5 separate regions of the Homo sapiens genome follow, and regions 1, 3, 4 and 5 are each reported to be linked to region 2. The links are microRNA targets in miRTarBase. Many come from high-throughput screens and were not tested one by one. Region 2 holds a microRNA gene; each other region holds the end of a gene's coding sequence.

Region 1 (5,104 bases), not on the chromosome of region 2:
AATTCCGGGCACCCTTGGACAATGAGAAAGGGTGCTGAAATCCTGCCTACCCTGTCACACTCAGTTTCAGAAATGGTCTGGAAGAGCCTGCAGAGGGCAGGCAGCAGAGAACCGGCAGAGGGCATGGGAAGGGCCAGGCAGAAATAAAGGGTAGCTCTTGAAGCATAGATGACAGTGTAGACCGTGGTTCTTTTCTCTTGCTTTCTCCACCTTTCTCTTCAATAGTTTGTTTCTCCTCATTGCTGTTCCAATGGCAACCTCTATTCTGCCCTATCATTGAAATCTAGAAAAAGAAAGTAGCTCAAATGTGAAATATCACCTAATCTTTTCTTCTATTTCTCCAGAGAAAAAATCCATATACCTGAAAGATCTGATGAAGCCCAGCGTGTTTTTAAAAGTTCGAAGACATCTTCATGCGACAAAAGTGATACATGTTTTTAATTAAAGAGTAAAGCCCATACAAGTATTCATTTTTTCTACCCTTTCCTTTGTAAGTTCCTGGGCAACCTTTTTGATTTCTTCCAGAAGGCAAAAAGACATTACCATGAGTAATAAGGGGGCTCCAGGACTCCCTCTAAGTGGAATAGCCTCCCTGTAACTCCAGCTCTGCTCCGTATGCCAAGAGGAGACTTTAATTCTCTTACTGCTTCTTTTCACTTCAGAGCACACTTATGGGCCAAGCCCAGCTTAATGGCTCATGACCTGGAAATAAAATTTAGGACCAATACCTCCTCCAGATCAGATTCTTCTCTTAATTTCATAGATTGTGTTTTTTTTTTAAATAGACCTCTCAATTTCTGGAAAACTGCCTTTTATCTGCCCAGAATTCTAAGCTGGTGCCCCACTGAATTTTGTGTGTACCTGTGACTAAACAACTACCTCCTCAGTCTGGGTGGGACTTATGTATTTATGACCTTATAGTGTTAATATCTTGAAACATAGAGATCTATGTACTGTAATAGTGTGATTACTATGCTCTAGAGAAAAGTCTACCCCTGCTAAGGAGTTCTCATCCCTCTGTCAGGGTCAGTAAGGAAAACGGTGGCCTAGGGTACAGGCAACAATGAGCAGACCAACCTAAATTTGGGGAAATTAGGAGAGGCAGAGATAGAACCTGGAGCCACTTCTATCTGGGCTGTTGCTAATATTGAGGAGGCTTGCCCCACCCAACAAGCCATAGTGGAGAGAACTGAATAAACAGGAAAATGCCAGAGCTTGTGAACCCTGTTTCTCTTGAAGAACTGACTAGTGAGATGGCCTGGGGAAGCTGTGAAAGAACCAAAAGAGATCACAATACTCAAAAGAGAGAGAGAGAGAAAAAAGAGAGATCTTGATCCACAGAAATACATGAAATGTCTGGTCTGTCCACCCCATCAACAAGTCTTGAAACAAGCAACAGATGGATAGTCTGTCCAAATGGACATAAGACAGACAGCAGTTTCCCTGGTGGTCAGGGAGGGGTTTTGGTGATACCCAAGTTATTGGGATGTCATCTTCCTGGAAGCAGAGCTGGGGAGGGAGAGCCATCACCTTGATAATGGGATGAATGGAAGGAGGCTTAGGACTTTCCACTCCTGGCTGAGAGAGGAAGAGCTGCAACGGAATTAGGAAGACCAAGACACAGATCACCCGGGGCTTACTTAGCCTACAGATGTCCTACGGGAACGTGGGCTGGCCCAGCATAGGGCTAGCAAATTTGAGTTGGATGATTGTTTTTGCTCAAGGCAACCAGAGGAAACTTGCATACAGAGACAGATATACTGGGAGAAATGACTTTGAAAACCTGGCTCTAAGGTGGGATCACTAAGGGATGGGGCAGTCTCTGCCCAAACATAAAGAGAACTCTGGGGAGCCTGAGCCACAAAAATGTTCCTTTATTTTATGTAAACCCTCAAGGGTTATAGACTGCCATGCTAGACAAGCTTGTCCATGTAATATTCCCATGTTTTTACCCTGCCCCTGCCTTGATTAGACTCCTAGCACCTGGCTAGTTTCTAACATGTTTTGTGCAGCACAGTTTTTAATAAATGCTTGTTACATTCATTTAAAAGTCTACATTTTCTGCTTTGGCTTCAAGAGTACTACTCAACCCTTGTGGTCTGATGTTCCCTGCTCTGTCCTCTGAATGTACTTCCTTTCTCTTTACATCTCTATGGCTAGAAGCCTCTCACGCATCCTGTATCTTCTCCTCCTCCCTTTTCCCTACCATTATTTGAGAAAGGAGGCTTGTATACTTCTATATGTTTATCTCAGTAATAAGTCATAAAAAATCAAGTAAGAATGGTTGTTTTTGAGGACAACTAAGAAATCTGGAATAAGGAAGGGAAGCTTACTTTTGAGTTTGTAACCTGTAGTGTGTAATTTTTTAATTATGTACTTACATGTACATTAAACAAAAGCTTAATGTAAAAATATTCCTTGAAAACACCATGATTATAAAATAAATGCATATATACACATACAGCATGTGAGAGGAGCCAGGAAAACTCTGGAAAAAAGAAAATTACCTAGACTCTGTGAGGGCAGGAATGTGTTTAATTTCTCTCCAATGGATCCTCAGACAACTAAGATAGTTGTCTATTCTATTGTCCATCTTTTTGTCTTTTGTTGTATTTCTTAAAGATTCCCTCAACTTTATCTTCTAACTTCTGTTGTATTTTTATTTCTGCTATCATGTATTCTTTTCAGAATTCTTTTTTGTTCTCTCAAAACATATCTGTTTAAAGATTGAATGAAATATTAACATGCCCTTTGGTGAGAACATCCCTCCTTTGTATATTAAATTCTCTGAACTGCTGTATTCTAAGACTAGGGGAAAGAAAAAGAAGGTTGAAAGAGGTCATTAGGCAGAATAGTACTAGCTAACATTATTTCACATTTACCATATACCCGTCACTCATCTAAACCTTTAAACTCATTATCCTATTTAATCCTCACAATGACCCTGTGACGTAGGTAATGGAATATTATGCCCATTATGCTGATGAGAAAATATAAACACAGAGATAAGTCAGAGTAATTTACCCAACATTGTTAACTTTGTAAGTGGCAGAGCTTTGTAACAGGCAGAGGTTGGAACAGTTTGGAGGGCTCAGAAGAAGACAGGAAGATGTAGGAAAGTTTGGAACTTCCCAGAGCCTTGTTGAATGGCTTTGACCAAAATGCTGATAGTAATATGGACAATGAAATACAGGCTGAGGTGGTCTCAGATAGAGAAGAGGAACTTGTTGGGAACTGGAATAAAGGTGACTCTTGCTATGTTTTAGCAAAGACACTGGTGGCATTTTGCCCCTGCCCTAGAGATTTGTGGGACTTTGAACTTGAGAGAGATGATTTAGGGTATCTGGTGGAAGAAATTTCTAAGCAGCAAAGCATTCAAGATGTAACTTTCGTGCTGTTAAAAGCATTCAGTTTTATGTATTCCCAAAAATATGGTTTGGAATTGGAACTTATGTTTAAAAGTTTGGAAAATTTGCAGCCTGACAATGTGATAGAAAAGAAAACCCATTTTCTGAGGAGAAATTCAAGCCAGCTGCAGAAATTTGCATAAGTAACAAGGAGCCAAATGTTAATTGCCAAGATAATGGGAAAATGTCTCCAGGCCATGTCAGAACTCTTTACAGCAGCCCTTCTCATCACAGGCCAAGAGGCCTAGGAGGGAAAAACGGTTTCCTGGCCAGGCCCGAGGCCTTGCTGCTTTGTGCAGTTTTGGGACTTGGTGCCCTGCATCCCAGCCATGGCTAAAAGAGGCCAAGATACAGTTCAGGTCATGGCTTCAGAGGGTGCAAGCCCCAAGGCTTGGCAGCTTCAGCACAGTGAACCTGCAGGTGCACACAAGTCAAGAATTGAGGTTTGGGAACATCCCCGTAGATTTCAGAGGATGTATGGGAACACCTGGATGTCCAGGCAGAAGTTTGCTGCAGGGGTAGAGCTCTCATGGAGAACCTCTGCAAGGGCAGTGCAGCAGGGAAATGTGGGGTTGGAGCCCCCACACAGAGTCCCCACTGGGGCACTGCCTAGTGGAGCTATGAGAAGAGGGCCACCATCATCCAGACCCCAGAATTGTAGGTCCACCAACCATGCGCCTGGAAAAGTCACCGACACTCAATGCCAACCCATGAAGGAAGTCAGGAGGGGGCTGTACCCTGCAAAGCCAAAGAGGCCAAGCTGCCCAAGGCCATGGGAGCCCACCTCTTGCATCAGCATGACCTGGATGTGAGAGATGGAGACAAAAGAGAGATCATTTTGGAGCTTTAAGATTTCACTGCCCCACTGGATTTTGGACTTGCATGGGGCCTGTAGCCCCTTTGTTTTGGCAAATTTCTCCCATTTGGAATGGGTATATTTACCCAATGCCTGTACCCCCATTGTATCTAGGAAGTTACTAACTTTCTTTTGATTTTACAGGCTCATAGGCGGAAGGTGCTTGCCTTGTCTCAGATGAGACTTTGGACTTGGGACTTTTGGGTTAATGCTGGAATGAGTTAAGACTTTGGGGGACTGTTGGAAAGGCATGATTGTATTTTGAAATGTAAGGACATGAGATTTGGGAGGAGCCAGGGGTGAAATTATATGGTTTGGCTGTGTCCCCATCCAAATCTCATCTTGAATTGTAGTTCCCATAATCTCCACGTGTTGTGGGAGGGACCCAGTGGGAGGTAATTGAATCATGTGGGCAGTTACCCCCATGCTGCTGTTCTCATGATAGTGAGTGAGTTCTCATGAGATGTGATGGTTTTATAAGAGGCTTTTCTGCCTTTTGCTTGGCATTTCTCCTTCCTATCATCCTGTGAAAGAGGATATGTTTGCTTCCCCTTCCACCATGATTTAAGTTTCCTGAGGCCTCATCAGCCCTGCTGAACTGTGAGTCAATTAAACCTCCTTCCTTTATAAATTAACCAGTCTTGGGTGTGTCTTTATTAGCAGTGTGAGAAGGAACAAATACATTAACCCAGGCTTGAAAGCAAAGAGTCATCTCTGATGACTGCATTCAACCTTTCCCTCAGCACCCACTGCTCACCCCTTCGCTCCTGCCTCATTCTGTTATCAGTCATCACTAGGCCAGGAAAGCATTCCTCCCACTTTCACACCCACCTCTTATTTT
Region 2 (5,104 bases):
AATGCACTTACATGCCACTCCGCACCCACACAGATGACACCTTCTCCTGGTAGCCATGGGCGTGGAAGCTGGGTACATCGTCATCTATGATTTCCATCTTCTTCCCGGTGAAGTTGGGGTTTTCATAGAGGATGATCTTGTGCTCTTGGCTGTCCTATTGGCAGAGGATGGGGGGAAGTGAGTATGGGTGAGGGGGCCCAGGGTTGGCCTTCCCACCCCATGCTCATGCCCCAGAGTTGGGATCAGCATGTCCCACACATCACTCTCTTCCCAATGCACCCACTACGTGTCTATGACCACTGCTGTTGGATCACAGCCGTTTGTTAAGTTTCTACTGGGCCATTTTCATGTAACAGACACTCTGCAACACTTTGGGGAATGTTTGATTCTGAAATGTCATTTTTTCCTCCTCAAGTTTCTCTTTTATAAATGGTGGCTACGATCTACCTACCCACCCACATATGAACACCCACACATACACACACACGCACACCCACACAAGCGTGCACACATACAGGCACACACGCACACTTGCACACACACACGCGCGCGCACACGTGCACACCCACACATGTACACACACATGCACACCCACACATGTGTGCACACACGTGCACACTTGCACACACACACGTGCACACACATGCACACCCACACATGTACACACACACATGCACAGGCTAACTGTGCCTCTAATAGGCACCTGAGATACTTTGATTTTTCTTCATTTCTACATCTCTTCCCATCCTCCTGTCCCTATGACATTTTCCTTAGTTATCTCATCTCATCCTTTACACATAAAACCCTTATCCCTCAGACATAAAATCCTCTTATGCCATTTAGCAGATGAGGAAAGTGCGGCACAGAGAGGTCAAATGACGTGCTCAAGGCCACACAGCTGGGAGCAGCACAGCCAACTTGGGAACCCAGGTCTGTGGGGTGCAAAGTCCAGTGTTCTCCAACCTTCCAGTAGGTCCTGGGAGGAGCTAGACTGGGCTTGGAGGGTTTGAGAGTGTAACTGAGCAGTGATGGGCCCTGTCCCCTTCCTGAGAGTTGACACTCTCACACACTAGTAAGAATCAGGATCTCAGAAGCACTGAAAACTCACACTGGCACGAGTCTTGAAGAAGAGCTAAACCACCTTCTCCTCCAGCCCCAAACTCATAATTTCTTGTAGTATTTCTGATGGCTATTGGTTATTGAGCAATGACGGGAGTTGCCCAACCCTTGGGCGCGGGGGGCGGGCACCAACCACCTAAAATAGAATGTGAATAGTGCCCTCTGGAGCATTTCATAGTCTTGTGATTGGAGCCTTCTGGAGTTGCAGTGTGACAACCCTCAAGCTAATAAGCACATTGGAACCTCAGGACAGTAGATACCAATATGCCCATTTTACAGATGAAGAAACTGAGGCTCAGGGAAGTAAAATGACTTTTGCAAGGTCACCCAGTGAGGAGGTTCCTCACCAATCAGAAGGGGCACAATGCTAGAGGGGCGGGCTCCTTCCTGGTCCCAGGACCTCCTGCTCCAAGGTGGCAGAGAGAGAAAGTAGGATGATGGCAGGGGGCTCACCACTTTGATGGGCCTCAGGCTGCTGAGTCTGTCCTCTGGCTGCTGGTCCACCAGTCCCAGTGGGCGTACTCGCCCTTCTCAAACACAAACTGCTCGCCCTTGCAGTTGGCCTGTTCATAGCTCACCCAGCTGCCATGGAGTCAGAGAGAAAGGGGGCAGGTCAGTTCCACTCCAAGCTTCCTATGGCAGAATCCTGGCTACTGATGTTGACCCCTAGGGTTCACTCTTGCCCAGCCCGGCAAGATGTAATAGCCCCACCCAAACCTTAGCACAGCAAATCCAAGTGCAAAATCCCCTCAGTTATCTAGAACTCAGTGCTATGCTGCCTTTACCCACCTGGAACACAGTTAAGAAATAAGAAGGCAGTCTAAATAACGGCCCAGCAACAAATACCAATATATAGACGCCATGCACTAAAGCCAATAGTATGCTGGTAAGTTAATAGCCAACTCTCAAAAAACAAAACGAAAATTAACACTCTTGATTTGCAGCGTTTGCCAATTTCCATGGTGTAAATGCTCCCACTGTGGCAGATTTCAAGCTATCAATACGACACGGCTGCAAGTGAAGTTAGGAAGAGAGATGCACAGTCAGCCTTCACCACTGAGAACTGACTCTAGAACATCTCTGGGCCCAAAGCCCCTCTCTTTGGATCTGTTTCTTCTCTTGTTCCTGTTGTTAGACTCTGCCCAAACTCTGTTTTTGTAGATCCACATTAGAAGAAAAATAGTACATTAAAGAGGAAGGGATGGCTTTCAGGTCGGGCATGGCTAATAGAAGAAAGCAGAAAATAGAAGAAAGAAGGCACAAATCTCAAAATGATTAGCATTCTGGGACCAACCAGTGCAGAGGCGAACATTTCAGCAATGTGCAATAATGGCTTTTCAGAGGAATGATCTAAGTCATTAACAAAAGAGGAGATCATGTTTATTATCCTCTTTTGGAAAAGTAGTCTTGATCCAGCAATTCTACTTCAGGCAATGGTTCCTTACAAAACAGTTGTCAAGGGGCTGGGCACTGTGGCTTATGCCTATAATCCCAGCACTCTGGGAAGCTGAGGTGGGCAGATCACCTGAGATCAGGAGTTCGAGACCAGTGAAACTCTATCTCTACTAAAAATACAAAAAATTGGTCAGGCATGGTGGCTCATGCCTTTAATCCCAGCACTTTGAGAGGCCGAGGCGGGCAAATCACGAGGTCAGGACTTCAAGACCAGCCTGGCCAACATGGTGAAACCCCGTCTCTACTAAAATACACAAAAATTAGCTAGGCATAGTGGCAGGCACCTGTAATCCCAGCTACTCAGGAGGCTGAGGCAGAAGAATCACTTGAACCTGGGAGGCGGAGGTTGCAGTGAGCCAAGATCACGCCACTGCACTCCAGTCTGGGCAACAGAGTGAGACACTGTCTCAAAAAATAAAAAATAAAAATAAAGAAAAAGAAGACGTTCAAGTGACCAACTGACATGAAAAAATGCACTACCTCACTAATCATCAGTGAAATGCAACTCACAAACACAATGAGATACCATCTCACGCTGGTCAGAATGGCCATTTTTCCAAAAGCAAAACAACATGCTGGCGAGGCAGGAAAGGAAAGGGAACGCTCCTACCTTGGGGAACGTGAAAACAGGTTCACACTGTGGAAAGCAGTGTAGAGATTCTCAAAGAACTTAAAACAGAACTACCATCAGACCCAGCAATTCCACTACTTAGTATCTACCCAAAAGACAATAAATCCTTCTATCAAAAAGACACATGCTCTCGTGCATTCATGGTCGTGCCATTCACAAGAACAAAGATGTGGAAGCATCCTAGATGACCAGCAACAGTGGATTTGATTTTTTAATGTGGCGCATACACACCAAAAAATACTACGCAGCCATAAGTAAAACACACAATCATGTCCTAAGCAGCATGGATAGACCTGGGGATTATTATGTTTAGCAAACCAAGGCAAGAACAGAAAACCAAATACTGCATGTTCTCACTTATGAGTGGGAGCTAAACAGTGAATACACTCGAACATAAAGATGGAAACAATAGACACTGGGGACTATCAGATGGAAAAAAGGAGGCAGAAAGGGAGTGTGGGCGGAAGAACCACCTGACGGGCACTTTGCTCACTGCCTGGGTGACGGGGTCAGTGGCCACAAGCCTCAGTGTCATCAAAGGTTCACATGTAACTAAGCTGCAATTTAATCAAAATAAAAGTTGATTTAAAAAAAAAAAAAAAAAAACAGGGTTGCCCTGGGCACAGTGGCTCCCGCCTGTAATCACAGCACTTTGGGAGGCTAAGGCAGGCAGATCACTTGAGCCTGGGAGTTCGAGAGAAGCCTGGGCAGCATGGCAAAACCCTACCTCTACAGAAAGTACAAAAAAATTAGTGGGGCATGGGGATGCGCACCTGTAGTCCCAGCTACTTGGGAGGTTGAGGAGGGAGGATCACTTGAGCCCGGGAGGTTCAAGGCTGCAATGAGCCAAGATCGCACTGCTGAACTCCAGCCTGGGTGACAGAGCAATAACCTGTCTCAAATAATAATAATAATAGGATTAGGATATATTATAGATAGATAGATAGATAGATAGATAGATAGATAGATAGATAGATAGATAGATAAAACAAAACCTACAGTCATCCAGGCAATCACTGACTGGCATAAATATAGAAAGACAACCGAATGGACAAAATGAGGGAGCCAAGTAATCAACCCAAAATTATATTTAGGGCACACATTTTTCAAAAGCACACCAAGGCACACCAGTTGAGAAAACTGGGTAGTCATGTGCAAAAGATTGAAATAGCACCCCTATGCTGCCCAATACACAAAAATCTACAAAAAATAAATCGAACAGTTAAATTCAATCCTGAAAGCAAAACACTCCAAGGAAAAAACATGGGATAAGCATATATTTGGGGGAAACTTGACACTGTGCACACAGGTCGCAAAAAGAAAAGGAAAAATTAGGGGGAAAATACGCATAGACAATAAAATGGCTTAACAATCTCTTTTTTTGGATGGAACACTGAAATCACTGGCAACAAATGCAAATATAAACATGAGAGACTAAGTACAACATTAGAGCTGCTGCACAGGACAGAACAAACGAACCCAAAGAGAAGGCATCTTAGACTAGGCATGGTGGCTCACGAGGTCAGGAGTTTGACACCAGCCTGGCCAACATGGTGAAACCCCGTCTCTAGTAATACAAAAATTAGCTGGGCACGGTGGTGCGTGCCTGTAATCCCAGCTACTCAAGAGGCTGAGGCCGGAGAATTGCTTGAACCTGGGAGGCGGAAGTTGCAGTGAGCTGAGATCATGCTACTGCACTCCAGCCTGAGTGACAGAGCAAGACTCTGTCGTGGGGAGAGGAGGGGGCAGAGAAGAAACGAACAAACAGCATCGCAAAGATGAGAAGAAAGTTTAGGGAAACATACAGCTGATAAGACCTTGTTTTCCAAAAGGCACAAGCTACTAACACTAGTAACTAGCAAAAAAACTAAACAAAAGAGAAACTAGTAACCGAACCAA
Region 3 (5,104 bases), not on the chromosome of region 2:
AGATATTCCCTTATGATTCTGAAAAACACGATTCGTAAGTCTAAAACAATATAAAACATCATATTTAAGTTGAAAAAAATAAAAGGGATATCATAGCATATATTGTAATACAGTGCAAGAAGAATTTCATATAATAAATCCATGTTTTATCAAAAGAAACTTTTCCAAAAATAGTCACATAAATAATCTCAGAAATTCTGATCGCATATTACCACTAGGAAGATGGACATTTGGCTATACTGATTTAGTAAGTAAAAAACTAAAACCAGTATCACTATTTTTAGGAGCAAACTAAATGGCATGCATAAATATAAAAATGAATCCAAATATTTAAAATAATGATTAAATAAAAGTGAAGAACAATTAGAATAGGGTGGTAAAAATAAGTTGCACTGATAGAAGCAACTAGCTAGCTACAAACATGGAGGAATCTGGGCATACAAATAACAGGAATCAACAATATGGCATTGCCATTTTAAAAGAAATGATATTGTAATAGATAAATGCAAATGATCTAAGGCTAAGATAAGTTAATATTTGAAGTCCCCTATATAGGCCAAAACAAAGGGTCACAATCATCCTAATCTTGCTTCTAAGTCCTTGAATATAGCCAGCTCTTAATAAAAATGTATTGGCTAAATGACGACCATTAAATAAGAACCCGGAGCCATCAAGTAGTTAGGGATCTCCACAGCCAAAACATAAACCTGAATGCAAAGGATGTGTCATGGGGTATCACCTTAGTCAAGATCTTTCATGTAAAAATTGTGTAGGAAATACTTCAACTCCTAAAGTAGTCCATATAACCCCAAATCAGAAAACTCTTGTATCACAGAGGTTAAGGGAAATCAAAGTATTGATGAAATAAATGGCAATTTTAACAGATAAATGTAAATCTGAGTGTCTACTACCCAAATGGAAAGTAGCTGAACCATACAGCCATGATCTTTCCACAGAGAAAATGGTAGTTCTTATATCTTGATACATGGACATAGTAAGAAGTAGGTCTACTAAGGAAAAATTGGGAGTTAAAATTATTTAACTGGAAAAGCTAAGGATAAGAATGTGTTAATCTTTAACATATGGAACATGATTGTGAGCCAGCTTTTCCTAGTTACTACCGTAGACTGTGGGGGGTCAGGCTGCCTGAATATTTCATAAAGTTATCAAACACATTTGCAGAATCCAAAGAGCTTTTGTATGAGCTAGAATACTGTCATTCCATCTGACAGACCACATTAGAATATTTGATAGGTTAAAAAAATGGAAGTGGTACAAACTAAGAAAATGCTAAAGTTCTGTTCATTTAGAACAGACTTAAGAGAGGAACCTAACAGTACAGCTCCACACTGAACTGTTTTCTCTTATTCTTACTAATGGTATCTAAGCTTTGGTTTACTCATTAGTTCAGTATGTTAATGCTAAAGTTAGTAATCCCTTAGACTTTAGTTTCCAGCTTTAACTTTTAAGACTAATTGTTTTTATTGTGCATATGTAAAATGGGATGCCTGTGAATTTAAAAAATTATTTTCATTTCTAAAAACATTAATAATCAACACGGTGATCAATACTGGGACAGAATACAGTGGGATTTTAAAAAAAAACACAATAATATTGAAACACTTCTAATGATAAGAGTGACTTCCAATAAAATCTAACATAACTTTATAAGGGGCCATTCCAGTTCTTAAAACTCTAATTAGACATAAAGCAAAATATTATTTAAAATTCCATTTTCTGACAGGATCAGAGTAAAAAAATCACTATGTGTCCTTGAGAACAGAAATAATAAAGTGACAGTTAAATATTACTATCAACAAAAAAATCTAGCTTTTACTATTTTTATAGATTTATCACTTATTTAAGTTAAAAATTAGTAAGAAGACTTGAAAAAGGCAATTTCTAGATTTATAGTAACTGTTCTATAATACAGCTTCAAAATAAGAACATGTACTTACATAAATATACTTAGCATACAGTTCTTTAAAGAATGTTGAAATGTTAATAGTGAGATCAATCAATGACAAGAAACTGTATCTTCCTCAGGAAAAAGAAACTAACCACTATACAATAAAGGCAATGACTGGAAACCCTAAATTACGTTTTGTTGTCAACAAAGTCAATTTAATTTAATAATTTAACTTTTCCACAGAATTAATCACTATTACTTCCATACCAAAGAGGTATCGGGGAAAGAGTAGATCTATGAGGATTTAAAATTATTTCCTATCTACTTCTTACTTTTAAGTTGTGGTGATTCATGGCTGTGATAAAGATTGTAATTTTCAAGAAACATACAAAAAATCCATGTTAAATAACAACAGTGGACCTTGAAGGCATGAGCTTTTGTCACTTTATTGTTAACCAATGAATATTATCCAAAATTAGAGATGTAATTGTAACTTAATTGTACAACACAAAATTATGCTAATGGTAAAAGCCTACTGGGATTTACCAAATACTCATTAGTGTATTTTTACATTGACTATATGAACATGTGCTCGCGACTGCTAATAAGTTATAATTGGTTTAATCTCTAAGAAATCCATATTGCAAATGGTTCTTGTTTAGAAAAATTCACACAGCCTTAAAAATGGATTAAATCCATTTTAATCCTAATCTACAAATAGATCATAAACAGCAAAATATAACTGATAATTTTTCAATACTGTATCAAACTGATGTAGCTATGGTAGTGCACATAATTCAAAATGAGGAAAATTAACAAAAATCCAATGAAAGTTCAGGTTTTTATCTATTATGCAATTGCTTTAAAGTGAACATTTATGTCTCAAAACATGAATAGTAGGGTCCACCATCCATTCCTTTGATGTACTGCAAGTAGGAATATTCTCTTCCATAGGATTCTGAAGCATGTGCACAACCATGGTACAACAGTCACTTCAAGGTTAACCAGCTATGTTTTGTCCTACAAAGTTCAAAAAATATATTAAACGCAACCTTTCTTTTACATAATGTCTGCCCAGATTAATCCTTTTAAAGTCAGCAAAATCAAAAAAGCACAAGAGATATTTTCAGACACAACTTGAATCTACTGTGCATGAAAATGTTTAATAAAATGGCAATTTTAATAGATAAATGTAAATTTGACTGTGTAATACCAAATGGAAAGTAGCTGAACCACACAGAGAAAACAAGGCTTTACGTATCTCCAAATTTAGCTGTTTTACAATAAACAAAGTATTAGAACATGTGAATATTAGAACCTCCTTCTAACTGGAAAGATTTCTTCAGTAAGCTATAACCGAAATTAATATAAACTAAAATTATAATTTCTAAAATAAGAATTAACAAACCAAATTTAAGTATTTTTAGTCAGAGATTGAAACAAAATAAGCACAGTGATCTAGAAACCAAATATACTGATTATGTAACTATCGTATCAAGGTACAGACATTCTTCACATGCTACAAGGTTAGCATTTCTCTCTCTCATACACACACAGAGTACACACACACACACACACACACACACACACAGTCTCTCTCTCATTCTCTCTCTCTCTTGCTCAGCCATACAACACCCCTCCAGGATGATAGTATACCAGTGAGGAGCTTACAATTTTAATACAAATCAGAATCCCACAGTTTGACTCGACAAAAAGGCAGTTAAAAATTTAGCACTCTTAAGATATTCTGAAGGAAAATGAAATTTCGAAAGTATTTCTTGATGATCGAGGCTATGGTTATGAATTATAAAACATATACCTTACACACTCCATTGTGTTTGAACAACCAGTCATCACAGATGTAGTAGTGAGGTAGTATTGTTGTCCCCTCCTCGGGACTGATGTTTTTATATGCTGCCCTTCCAGAAAAGGTCCAGGTTTTAAAAAATAACATTAGTTACCAACAAATGTATATTTTCTTTTTTTAACTAATCATTTGTTTTTCTAAATCAGTCTATAAAAGAACAAAACTTTTAAAATCTTGCAGAGGCTGTTTCATCAGTAAACTCTCCTAGGGAGCTACTACTGCTGTCTAAACCTCTGTGAAATGGTAGGCAAAAAAAGCCATCAAAGGATCACAGGAGATAAAACACCAATCAGTGTAAGCTGTTAAAGATGACTGTGATTAAATAACCAAATATCAAATATCCAATAAGGTAATTAAATTTAGATTAAAAAAAAACTAAGCACCAGCTGTACATACATTATTAAATGTTCTAATCTCTTTCCTGATTCATAGCCATATTCTACATGATGATCAAAGACTGTCCACTGTGCTACCTACCATCATTTTAAACACTGCCTGATCTGTATGATGGTGGAATTATGGCTATGGACATGGCAGATAAGAGAAGGGCACACTGAGAAAATGTGAGTGAGAGAGAATGTGGAAATAGGTTAAATATGGAAAGGGCAAGGGAAACCCATTAAAATGTTCACCATTATCCTTTAAAATGTACACAGAACTGAAACCACACATACACATTTGTCAGACGTGATAATTAGTGTTAATCTTCAACAGAAAAAAAAAAGAAAAAGAAAAAAAATGTGAAAAGAGGCAATGGAACACCATTCTCCATTCCCTGGACCAAAAGAAAAAAGAAAACCAAGCATGATATCATACTGCCTTAATGTTGAAGAGCTCCCCTTAAATTTGTCTTTTAGCTAGCACAGTCAAACTGGTGTAAGTGCTTTGGCAAGGTGGGATGCATTCCATCATATCTGCAAAGGCCTGCTTTTCTCTGTTGGTGGTTCAGCTTATGAAGAACATATATGCAAAATAACAGCTCTCACATTGCTTCAAACTCATCGATACGCTGCTTTGTATTGCCTTGTCGAATCTGTCGCAGAGTCTTGTACTTATCACGGCCTGCTTTAACATTCTCAGCATGAAGAACATCATTTTGTGTTTTCTTGGTTTCATCTCTGGCTTGGGCTAATTCTGAACTTAATGCCTATTTAAAAAATAAAAAGTACAACTATTATTTTTTTCTTAGATTTAAAAAAATTTATGAAAATGGCTTTAAGATGCAAAAATACATATACCAAATCATTTCCACTGTGAAACCTTTTTCTTTAGGTATAAGTTTGTTTTAGTAATAGTGGTGGCAGTGGTAAGGGAGGAATACACATGGC
Region 4 (5,084 bases), not on the chromosome of region 2:
ATCCAGAGGAACGCCACTATCCCCACCAAGCAGACCCAGACTTTCACCACCTACTCGGACAACCAGCCTGGGGTCTTCATCCAGGTGTATGAGGGTGAGAGGGCCATGACCAAGGACAACAACCTGCTGGGGCGTTTTGAACTCAGTGGCATCCCTCCTGCCCCACGTGGAGTCCCCCAGATAGAGGTGACTTTTGACATTGATGCTAATGGCATCCTGAGCGTGACAGCCACTGACAGGAGCACAGGTAAGGCTAACAAGATCACCATCACCAATGACAAGGGCCGGCTGAGCAAGGAGGAGGTGGAGAGGATGGTTCATGAAGCCGAGCAGTACAAGGCTGAGGATGAGGCCCAGAGGGACAGAGTGGCTGCCAAAAACTCGCTGGAGGCCCATGTCTTCCATGTGAAAGGTTCTTTGCAAGAGGAAAGCCTTAGGGACAAGATTCCCGAAGAGGACAGGCGCAAAATGCAAGACAAGTGTCGGGAAGTCCTTGCCTGGCTGGAGCACAACCAGCTGGCAGAGAAGGAGGAGTATGAGCATCAGAAGAGGGAGCTGGAGCAAATCTGTCGCCCCATCTTCTCCAGGCTCTATGGGGGGCCTGGTGTCCCTGGGGGCAGCAGTTGTGGCACTCAAGCCCGCCAGGGGGACCCCAGCACCGGCCCCATCATTGAGGAGGTTGATTGAATGGCCCTTCGTGATAAGTCAGCTGTGACTGTCAGGGCTATGCTATGGGCCTTCTAGACTGTCTTCTATGATCCTGCCCTTCAGAGATGAACTTTCCCTCCAAAGCTAGAACTTTCTTCCCAGGATAACTGAAGTCTTTTGACTTTTTGCGGGGAGGGCGGTTCATCCTCTTCTGCTTCAAATAAAAAGTCATTAATTTATTAAAACTTGTGTGGCACTTTAACATTGCTTTCACCTATATTTTGTGTACTTTGTTACTTGCATGTATGAATTTTGTTATGTAAAATATAGTTATAGACCTAAATAAGCTTTTAAAACTCCTTCTTGTTTTTCATTCCAACCAATCGAAGTACAAAAGTACCCAAAGGCTTTCAGAAGCAGAAAATGTTGGGGTGGGTGCTGAAGGAGGAATGTGAAGAATATTCCTGAGACCGTGTACATGATTCCTATAGGGGAAGGCAGGATTTGGAAAAGAATTTGAGGCCAATACATTGGAACAGTACTGAAGAGTTAGGGCTGGTAAAGAGGAGAGGATTGAGACTTACAATGCAGGAAGAGAGAGGGAGAGATGTGGAATTGGAAAAGCAGAGAATGAAGAGAAACTTAAGTACTGGCAGTGTTTCCATGTGTGATCCTATGATTCAAATTCTGTATTTTTGTCATAGGAACCTGGTTGAGTTTGTCAGTCTAGCTGTTTTAATAACACTAACAAATAGTTTACATGCTTATTAGCTGTTTGTAATCATGTCACTTTATCCATTGTTCTTTTAGAGAAAAGACTCTGAGTCCTGGACTCTGGAGGATGGTATATGTCAGAGGAAGTAGATCTGGTGGTACGATTAAAGTTACTATTGACTTTATCTATGTCAGAGAAATAGTATGATCCCATGTGGTTTCTGCCCATGGCATAATGAGGATGTTGGAACAAGACTCTATAGATTTTCAGCCCTGCCACTTTATATACTGTGCAAATTAAACTCTCCAAGCTTCAGTTTCCCCTTCCCTGCAGTGGGGATGATGATGATGATAACAGTACCAACCTCCAGACTGTTGTGAGGGTTCAATTAATTAATATATGTAAGAGGCAAAGAAGAAAGGTGTATAATATACTATCAACAAACATTAGCAATTACTATTAATTGTTAGTTGGGTGATAACTATGTATCAGGTACTTGACATACACAATCTAACTTAATCTTCACAGCAGCATTATGGAATACTATCTTCTTTTTGAAGATGAGCATTATGAGGTTCAAAGAGGTTAAACAATTTATTCAAAGACACAAAGCTATAAAGTGGGGACAGGAAGGCTGGAATGAAGAACCCTGTCCTGCCTGAGTCTAGAGCCTCAGCATGCCACCTTACAAATAGGCCATAACTCCACTTATTACCAGACCTTCCCCTAGATGTTTTGAAATTGGTCATATTATTCCTTTGAAACACAGCTGGATGCTGAGCCCCGTGAGAAAAAGTGTGCATTTTATTGTATACTTGCAGAGACAGAGTCTTGCTCTGTCGCCTAAGCTGGAGTGCAAAGGTGCGATCTCAACTCACTGCAACCTCTGCCTCCCGGGTTCAACCGATTCTCCTGCCTCAGCCTCCCCAGTAGCTGGGATTACAGTTGCCTGCCATCACACCCAGCTAAGTTTTGTATTTTTAGTAGAGATGGGGTTTCACCATGTTGGTCAAGCTGGTCTCAGACTCGTGACCTCAGGTGATCTGCCCACCTCAGCCTCCCAAAGTGCTGGGATTACAGGTGTGAGCCACCACGCCTAGCTAGTTGTGTGTTTTTTATAGCAAGTGACGGAATCTGCAAAATATCCTTAGGCACAACTTTACTGCCAGTTGAGTCAATGACAATATAAAAGCAAGGATATTTGCCTTTGCTTTGTTGGTGTAAACAAAATAATCAAAAGGATAAACTTGTGTTAGTTCCCAGTCAATCCAATCCAGAGTATATTTGCCCTATGGGCATTGGGAGATTTATTTTTATCTCAGAAATTATGGGAGAGCTTGGCTAGAACAATGCTACATTATACATTATATTTCTTAGGTTGATTTTTTAAAGACGGAGAGAAGGTTACACTAACAACTCACTTGTCCCTGGCTGTCATTTCACATTTTTAACTGCCCTCTTTTCCTGGCCCTGGCCCAAGTCTTACGCAGCCTGGCTTCACATGGAAGGAACCTGAAAAAAAAAAAAAAGAGAGAGAGAGATGGAGTAACACGTACATCCTGCATTACATTCTTCCTTTCCTGAATCTCATCTCAATTCTCAACATTGACCCCCCTCAACCTGTTTGAACTTCTCAAGAGGATTGATAGTACTCACTTTTTTATAGTTTCTTAGTATTTTGATAGTATGCCTTTTATCCTTTTAAAAAACCCAACACACACAGAATATAAGAAGAAAGATTTTTATCGTGTTTAGTTGTGACATCTCAGATCCTCCCATTTGAGTGCAATCTATTTTTCTATAGAGAAATATAAACAAACTTTATTTACTTTTAAACGTCTGTTGATCATTTTGGTTTAGTTTCTTTGGGGACTGTTTCTTGTATACTAGGTATCTAAAAATCCTTATATTGTATGTAGTCTTAGTTTGATTATTGTAATCACAACTATGTCACCCAGTTCCAAAGGGGGGGAAAAAAGTTTGAACAAATTAAATCAGAACACATGCCCATTATTAAAAAAATCAATTCTTGGTACAAGCAGTTTCTTGCCCCCTTCCCAGGTCCTACTCCTCACAGGCAACCACTTTCAAGTTGTTGGTTTTTTAAAAGAATTTTTGATTTTGCAATAATTTTAGATGAACAGACAAGTTGCAAAGATACTACATAAAGTCATTACTCTATATCCTTTCTACTTCCCCTAATGTTAAAACCTTACATAACCATGTTATATTTATCAAACCTAAGAAATTGGCATTGGTATAACATTAATGACTAACTGTAGATTTTATTCATGTTACTTTTTTTTTTTTTGGACACAGGGTCTCACTCTGTACGCCAGGCTGGAGTGCAGCCTGGAGTCAGCCGATCTCGGCTCACAAAAACCTCTGCCCCCTGGGCTCAAGAGATTCGCCTCAGGCTCCCGGAGTAGCTGGGACTACAGGCGCGAACCCCGGGTACTTGGGAGGCTGAGGCACGAGAACCGCGTGGACCGGGAAGACGGAGGCTGCAGTGAGCCAAGATTGAGCCACTGTGCTTCAGCCTGGGGTACAGAGTGAGACCCTGTCTAAAAAAAAAAAAAAAAAAAAAAAGGCTGGGGAGCGGGGCAAGGCGGTGGGAGAACCTGATCCTTACCAAAGTTTGACACTACTGCGTTAGCGTTAAAAAAAAAAACCCAGCTAAGACTGTAGAGCAAATTAAAGGATCCTGAGTTGAGGGCGTTCTCTTGTTTAGTCAAAGGAGATGGTATCTGCCTGCCTTAGTGTGCTTGACGCACAGAAAGGGCTCAACACATTGTTGTTGAATAAAAGAATGGATAAATTGACACTGGGAAGTTGGAGTCCAAAGTTAATCTTAGTCTCAACTGCTCCCTGATTTCATAGACCAGACTCCAGCCTACAATACAGGAAAAATAGATATAGTTCTATATGTGCAGAGAAGCACAAATAATTTTCGTAAATGTAGATACCTAGGATAAAAGGCAGTGTTGACCGATCGAAAAGTCTTTCTCTAAGAATTCAAACATAATTGCTGGTTGGTTCAAATCAGGAGGAAAAGTAAGGACGGAAAACACATATTGTCAGGAGTGGGATTCGAACCCACGCCTCCAGGGGAGACTGCGACCTGAACGCAGCGCCTTAGACCGCTCGGCCATCCTGACACATGTTTTACCATGCTTCCTAATTTCTCCTAATTTTATCATATACTGATGGTGCACGCTATCAGGTCACATTAATGTGTCTATTTACTGTTTCAAATAAAATTGTAACTCTCTCTAGACCTTGTCGCAAAGCGGGAAAAATGAAACAGGCTCCGACAGCTCTTTCCTCTTTCCTCACTACCCAAACTAATCCTTAAGGCTCCATTTTCCCTGGCGACTCTTCGAGCGCCCCTCTGCTTCTGTAGAGGGGTCGAGCCATGTCAAGGTAGACCCTGTGTCGGCCCGTCTCCCTCGGATCCTCCGCACCAATCACTGTTGCTGAATCCGACACCCGGCGGATCCAGTGCGGAGTCTCGAACAGCTGCGGAGCTGGGAGCTACGGGACATGAAGAGAGCGGGGTGGAAGAGAAGACGGCGGAGGAAAATCCCCCGGCGATGCTCAACTGCGGCTTTCTCTCTCGGCTGTGAGCCGGCTCCGCCCTCCAGCTTCCAGAGCCGGTGGCTTCTGCGTTCACCGCCCCGCGCCGTTTGCGGGGCGGGGCTGATTCATAAGAATCGGTTCT
Region 5 (5,083 bases), not on the chromosome of region 2:
GCTCCTGCTGAACAGAGCAAAGGTTTTTCCTTAATGGAAACGATATCATATCTGCTTCCTAGAGCATTTATATCTTATAGGGCAGAGCACATAGTAGGTCCTCAGGAAACTCTCTGGGTCACCTTCCTACATCTCCAAGCTCACGTCAGATCACCTCCTCACTTGCTCACTGCTCCAGCCATGCTGGCTGCCTTTCTGACCTGTGAATAAGTTCATTCCCATGTCGGAGCCTTTGGCTGCCTCTGCAGTGCTCTTTCCCCAGAGCCGTATGGCTGGTTTCTCGTCATCATGTGATTCAAGTGTCACTTCCAGCCAGGCGCCGTGGCTCATGCCTGCAATCCCAACACTTTGGGAGGCCAAGGCAGGTGGATCACTTGAGGCCAGGAGTTCAAGACCAGCCTGGCCAACATGGTGAGACCCTGTCTCTATTAAAAAAAAAAAAAAATTAGCTGGGCATGGTGGTGCACGCCTGTAATCCCAGCTACTCGGGAGGCCGAGACACAAGAATCGCTTGAATGCGGAAAGTGGAGTTTGCAGTAAGCTGAGATAGCACCATTGCACTCCAGCCTGGGCAACAGAGTGAGACTCCATCTCAAAAAAAAAAAAAAAAAGTCACTTCTTCAGACAGGTCCTCCCTGATCACCCCAACCAAAGTAGCACTCCTGCCCTCACTCTCTACACTACAGAGGCCAAGTGCCTAAGTGGCTGAGTAGAATTCCAGTTCCCGCCTGGCGTGATGGCTCATGCCTGTAATCCTAGCGCTGTGGGAGGCCAAGTCAGGTGGATCACTTGAGGTCAGGAGTTCAAAACCAGTCTGACCAACATGGTAAAACCCCATCTCTATTAAAAATACAAAAAAAAGCTTAGCCAGGTGTGGTGGCGGGCGCCTGTAATCCCAGCTACTCGGGAGGCTGAGGCAGGAGAATTGCTTGAACCCGGGAGGCAGAGGTTGCAGTGAGCTGAGATCACGCCTCTGCACTCCAGCCTGGGAGACAAAGCAAGACTCCGTACCAAAAAAAAAAAAAAAAAAAAAAAAAAGAATTCCAGTTCCATCACTTCTTAGCAGTATGGCCTAAGGCAAGTTGCTTAATCTCTCTGTGCTTCAATTTTATTTTTCTTTTCTTTCTTTTTTTTTTTTTTTTTTTTTTTTTGAGACTGAGTTTGGCTCTTCTTACCCAGGCTAATTTTTGTGTATTTTTAGTAGAGACAGGGTTTCACCATGTTGGTCAGGCTGGTCTCGAACTCTTGACCTCTGGTGATCCACCCACCTTGGCCTCCCAAAGTGCTGGGATTACAGGTGTGAACCACTGCACCTGGCCCAATTTTCTCATCTGTAAAAATGGAAGTAATCACAGTTTCCACTTCGTGAGGTTATTATGACAAATTAATATAGATAAAGCTTTTAGAGTAGTGCCTGGCTTATTGATGAAGGGCTATCTCATGTGGGTAATTATCTTGTTCACTCATTTAGTTGCTTGTGTTATGTTTCTCCATCTAGACTGTATATTCCAAGAGACCAGAGACTTTGTTTTGTCCCTACCTTACATATAGTAGGTGCTCAATAAATATCAAATGATTAGGAAGAACTGGCCAGGCACGGTGGCTCACGTCTATAATCCCAGCACTTTGGGAGGCCGAGGCAGGAGGATTGCTTGAGGTCAGGAGTTTGTGACCTGCCTGACCAACATGGCAAGACCCTATCTCTATAAAAAATAAAAATTAGCCTGGTGTGGTGGCACGTGCCTGCAATCCCAGCTACTCAGGAGGCTGAGGTGGAAGGATCGCTTGAGCCCAGAAAATTGAGGCTGCAGTGAGCCATGATCACACCACTGCACTCCAGCCTGGGTGACAGAGTGAGACCGTGTCTCTAAAATTTTTTTTTTAAATTTTAAATAAAAAATAGGATCATAGGAGACATGAAAGCCCTATCTGCTGTCTCTCGCTTCAACTGTCCCCACTGTCCTAGAGACAGCCCTGGGGTGCCCCCTGCTGGACGCCACACAGGTTTTTCCTTACAGGCAGCTGGTATATGCCATCCTATAACGTTTACACGTGGGTCCAGCTCTGTCCTCCAGGGTAGGGGACAGTAATGCTGAGAGGAGTTAAGAGCACTCACTTAAGAGCCAGATGTGCCTGGATGGGAGCTTCTGCTTCTCCAGTTACTCTGTGTCACTTGCCAGAAAACCGTAAAAGGGATGACCATGCCCTCTCCCCTGTCCCACCTGACTGGACTGTAGGGTGGTGTGATAGGACGTGCCCTATGCCCAGTGAGCCTTCTGGCCCACCTCACACAGCCCTTTGAAGGCTGAGAAGCAGTTGTCTTATCTTCCTGACCTAAACACCACTGGTGTACCCGATGTCCCTCTAGTGACAGCAAGAGTGAGCCTGAGGCCCCTCCGGTCTCCTCTGAGGGCCCCATGCTCTGGGGAGAGACCACAGCAGGCTCAGAGCCTCTGGGCTTCTGGGCAGGGCTTCTGGCTCCTTCCTCAGGCTCTTGGCTGCAGGTGGCCTTCTGGTCTTGCACCTTCCTCCCACCCATCTCCCTGCCTTCCTGGCTGCCCTGCTTTCCCTGTCCCCGGTCAGTCCGGTCTGTCGTGAGCCCAGAGGCCTCTCCTGCCTCACTCTGCACCTGTTCCCGCCCTTGGCTTTGGTTGCTGGCCACAGACACTGCAACTCCTATACCTGCATCGGCAGCCCAGGGCCCCACACTCTTTATGGGCCTCTTTCCCGAACGTCCCATGCGCACCTGAAACTCAGGGGCGCTCCCCTCCACCTGCAGCACATTCCACACCCCCCACATTCCTATGCTGACCTCCAGTCCTTGAAGGGCCAGGCCCTACCTGGCCTCCTGGCCCCTCATGCCCATGACCTGTCTCCATCTTCAGTTTCCTCCCATAGCCCAGTGCAGGCTCCGGTCCTTTCTCCACTCACCCCATCTCCTCTTAACCTGGCTCCCCACATGCCCACCCTTAGTCTCCCACCCCTAAGCATGGGAGCTCATGGGGTGAGCCTGTTCCTCCATAGCCCTTCATCAAGCTGGACCCTGAGGGCAAGGCATCAGTTCCTTTGTCTGATTGGCAGCTCGGGTGAACATGGACTGTGCCTTCCCCAGCAGACTGAAATCCCCCAGACAGGACGGAGGGCATCCTTATGGAAGAGGTTATGCCTCTCCCTTGAAACTGAGAGTTTTCTGAAGTCAAGGTTTTGTCTCCCTTGTCAGACTGAGGATGCCCCCAGAGCAGGGGCTGCATCTCCACCACTGCACTGGAGGGCCCAGGACACTGGCTCCCCCTCCCCTTGGGTCCCACCCTTCATGTGGCCAGGCTGCTGATTCTTCCTGGGAAGGAGTCTCTTATTCCCCACCGTAACTTCAGGGCCCCCACACATGACCTGGCCTGGGGTTGGGGCTCTGGGAATTGTAAATAAATGAACTAGTGAATGAATAAACAATTGCAGGCAGGCCCCAGCTTGAACCCTGCAATCCCACCAGAACAGCAGGTAGCATCAGGGTTCAGAACCGAGGCAAAGCTGGAGACTCTCGGTGATTTTACTGGTCTCCATTTCAGGAGAGGAGGGCAGAGGGTTCCAGGCCCTTCAAATGCCCACCCCTAGGACCAGCAGCTGACAGTCTTTGGAAGGGGCTGGGTCGGCCGGAAGGAGCGTGCCGGAGCACAGAGTCTGGCACAAGACCCTCCCCACCTCCCCTCCCCCAGGCCAAAGCCTGGGCCAACCTCTGGGCCAGGTTTGGAAAAGGGCCAATGAGACCAGATGCTAATGACTCCAGGGGGTGGGCACGAACTAAGAGAAACCCCAAACCAATCCTTTTTGTGCTTCCCCATCCCCACCTCCCATCCCCTACCCCAGGCCCCTCACCTCCATCCCTGGGCCCAAGAGAACTGGTACCCTAGACCCTAGCACAGTCCACACCCACCCCAGTTGCCAATCAGACAAAGGAACTGACACCTTGCCCTAGGGGCCCAGCTTGATGAAGGGCTGTGGAGGTTTGGGGAAGGTGAGGACGCTATGGACTAAGTTAAGGCCTATCTACTCCCAGCCTCTACCCTTCCAAGCAGCTGGGGGAGGGTGGAAGCAGGGCCGCTCAGGGCTCTACCCACATGCTGCTATTGGTCACCCGGGCCCTGAGAACTGGTACACCCCCAACCCCACTCTGCCTTTAGTAAAGGATGGGGGGTCATAGCAAGGCTTAGGATACTCACTGGACCAAGAGAGGCCTGGAGGGCAGCCCCCCCGCCAACATGCCCTATTCTGGCCTCTGGGCAGCTTGGGTGTCGGTCAGGCGCCAGGCTCAGCTCAACCTTCCTTGGTCTCACAATCCCAGCTTTGTCCTCCCTGGCAAGGCCGGGCCCAGCTGACTCCATACTGGCCCAAGGTCCGCTGGAAACCAGAGCAGCTGGAGCCCTACCAAGTATTTTTCCAGGCTATGCCGGGGGCCCTCAGGAGACAGAAAAGGATGGGAAGGGAGCAGTGTTTATCCATTTTTTCATTCATTCCTTCCTTGGACAAATAATATTTATTGAGAGCCCACTTTGTGGCAAGCACTGTGCTAGGTGCAGGGAATCAGCAGTGGGTCCAGTCCAAGCTCACGCCCTCACGGATCTACATTCTAGAAGCCGGCTACCTAAGCAAACCTATGCCAACAAAACTTCTCTCTCCCTGCTCAGGGGCTGGGATCGGAGCAAGGGATGGGAGGAGGATGTGTGGCTTGGGGAAGGTGAGGACGCTATGGACTAAGTTAAGGCCTATCTACCCTCGACCTTTGCCCCTCCAGGCAGCTGGGGGAGAGTGGAGGCAGGGTCGCTCAGGGTTCTACCCACACGCTGCTGTTGGTCACCCGGGCCCCGAACCAGCCCTTCCAGTAGACGGAGTCCTGCCCCCCGTGCTCGAAGCGGACGAAGCGGACGCCCGGCCCGTAGTCGGTGAAGGTGTGGGAGATCTGGGGGTGGAGGTAACAAGAGTCAGCCTCGGAGGTCCTGAGGCCTCTCCTGCCGCCCCACCCCGGTACACCGACCGACCTGCAGCTCCCCCACTCGGTTTCTCCGCGGTATTCAGAACTCTCTCCACC

What was found. The annotated mature microRNA hsa-miR-6817-3p reads UCUCUCUGACUCCAUGGCA and lies in region 2 at 1,703-1,721, opposite strand. An mRNA with a match to its seed (bases 2 to 7 or 8) in the 3' UTR can be bound and repressed. Matches are read on the target gene's strand: a 7mer-m8 pairs with bases 2 to 8, a 7mer-A1 pairs with bases 2 to 7 and ends in A, and an 8mer does both.
Region 1: miRTarBase lists CD86 as a target of hsa-miR-6817-3p. Seed matches in the 3' UTR shown: 7mer-A1 at 1,303-1,309, 7mer-A1 at 1,305-1,311, 7mer-A1 at 1,307-1,313, 7mer-A1 at 1,309-1,315, 7mer-A1 at 1,311-1,317 and 7mer-A1 at 1,322-1,328.
Region 3: miRTarBase lists RDX as a target of hsa-miR-6817-3p. Seed matches in the 3' UTR shown: 7mer-A1 at 3,520-3,526, 7mer-A1 at 3,518-3,524, 7mer-A1 at 3,516-3,522, 7mer-A1 at 3,514-3,520, 7mer-A1 at 3,504-3,510, 7mer-A1 at 3,502-3,508 and 2 more.
Region 4: miRTarBase lists HSPA6 as a target of hsa-miR-6817-3p. The part of its 3' UTR that is shown has no 7-base or 8-base seed match.
Region 5: miRTarBase lists FBXO2 as a target of hsa-miR-6817-3p. Seed matches in the 3' UTR shown: 7mer-A1 at 4,666-4,672.

The regions. Positions count from the first base shown.
Region 1 is chr3:122,119,094-122,124,197 of GRCh38, forward strand. CD86 (CD86 molecule) reads left to right here. Exons shown (of 7, transcript NM_175862.5): 7 at 345-2,043. The coding sequence ends at 441. Among named protein-coding and RNA genes, the nearest start is that of CASR, 62 kb to the right of the region's middle.
Region 2 is chr22:25,452,309-25,457,412 of GRCh38, reverse strand. MIR6817 (microRNA 6817) reads right to left here and starts at 1,767; the gene lies at 1,702-1,767. It also overlaps the pseudogene CRYBB2P1. RefSeq lists an enhancer at 1,597-1,700.
Region 3 is chr11:110,227,111-110,232,214 of GRCh38, forward strand. It overlaps RDX (radixin), which reads right to left. Exons shown (of 14, transcript NM_002906.4): 14 at 2,331-4,923. The coding sequence ends at 4,759. Among named protein-coding and RNA genes, the nearest start is that of RDX, 67 kb to the right of the region's middle.
Region 4 is chr1:161,525,904-161,530,987 of GRCh38, forward strand. HSPA6 (heat shock protein family A (Hsp70) member 6) reads left to right here. Exons shown (of 1, transcript NM_002155.5): 1 at 1-991. The coding sequence ends at 687. It overlaps TRL-CAG1-6 (tRNA-Leu (anticodon CAG) 1-6), which reads right to left and starts at 4,521; the gene lies at 4,439-4,521.
Region 5 is chr1:11,643,875-11,648,957 of GRCh38, forward strand. It overlaps FBXO2 (F-box protein 2), which reads right to left. Exons shown (of 6, transcript NM_012168.6): 6 at 4,513-4,954. The coding sequence ends at 4,820. Among named protein-coding and RNA genes, the nearest start is that of FBXO2, 8.0 kb to the right of the region's middle.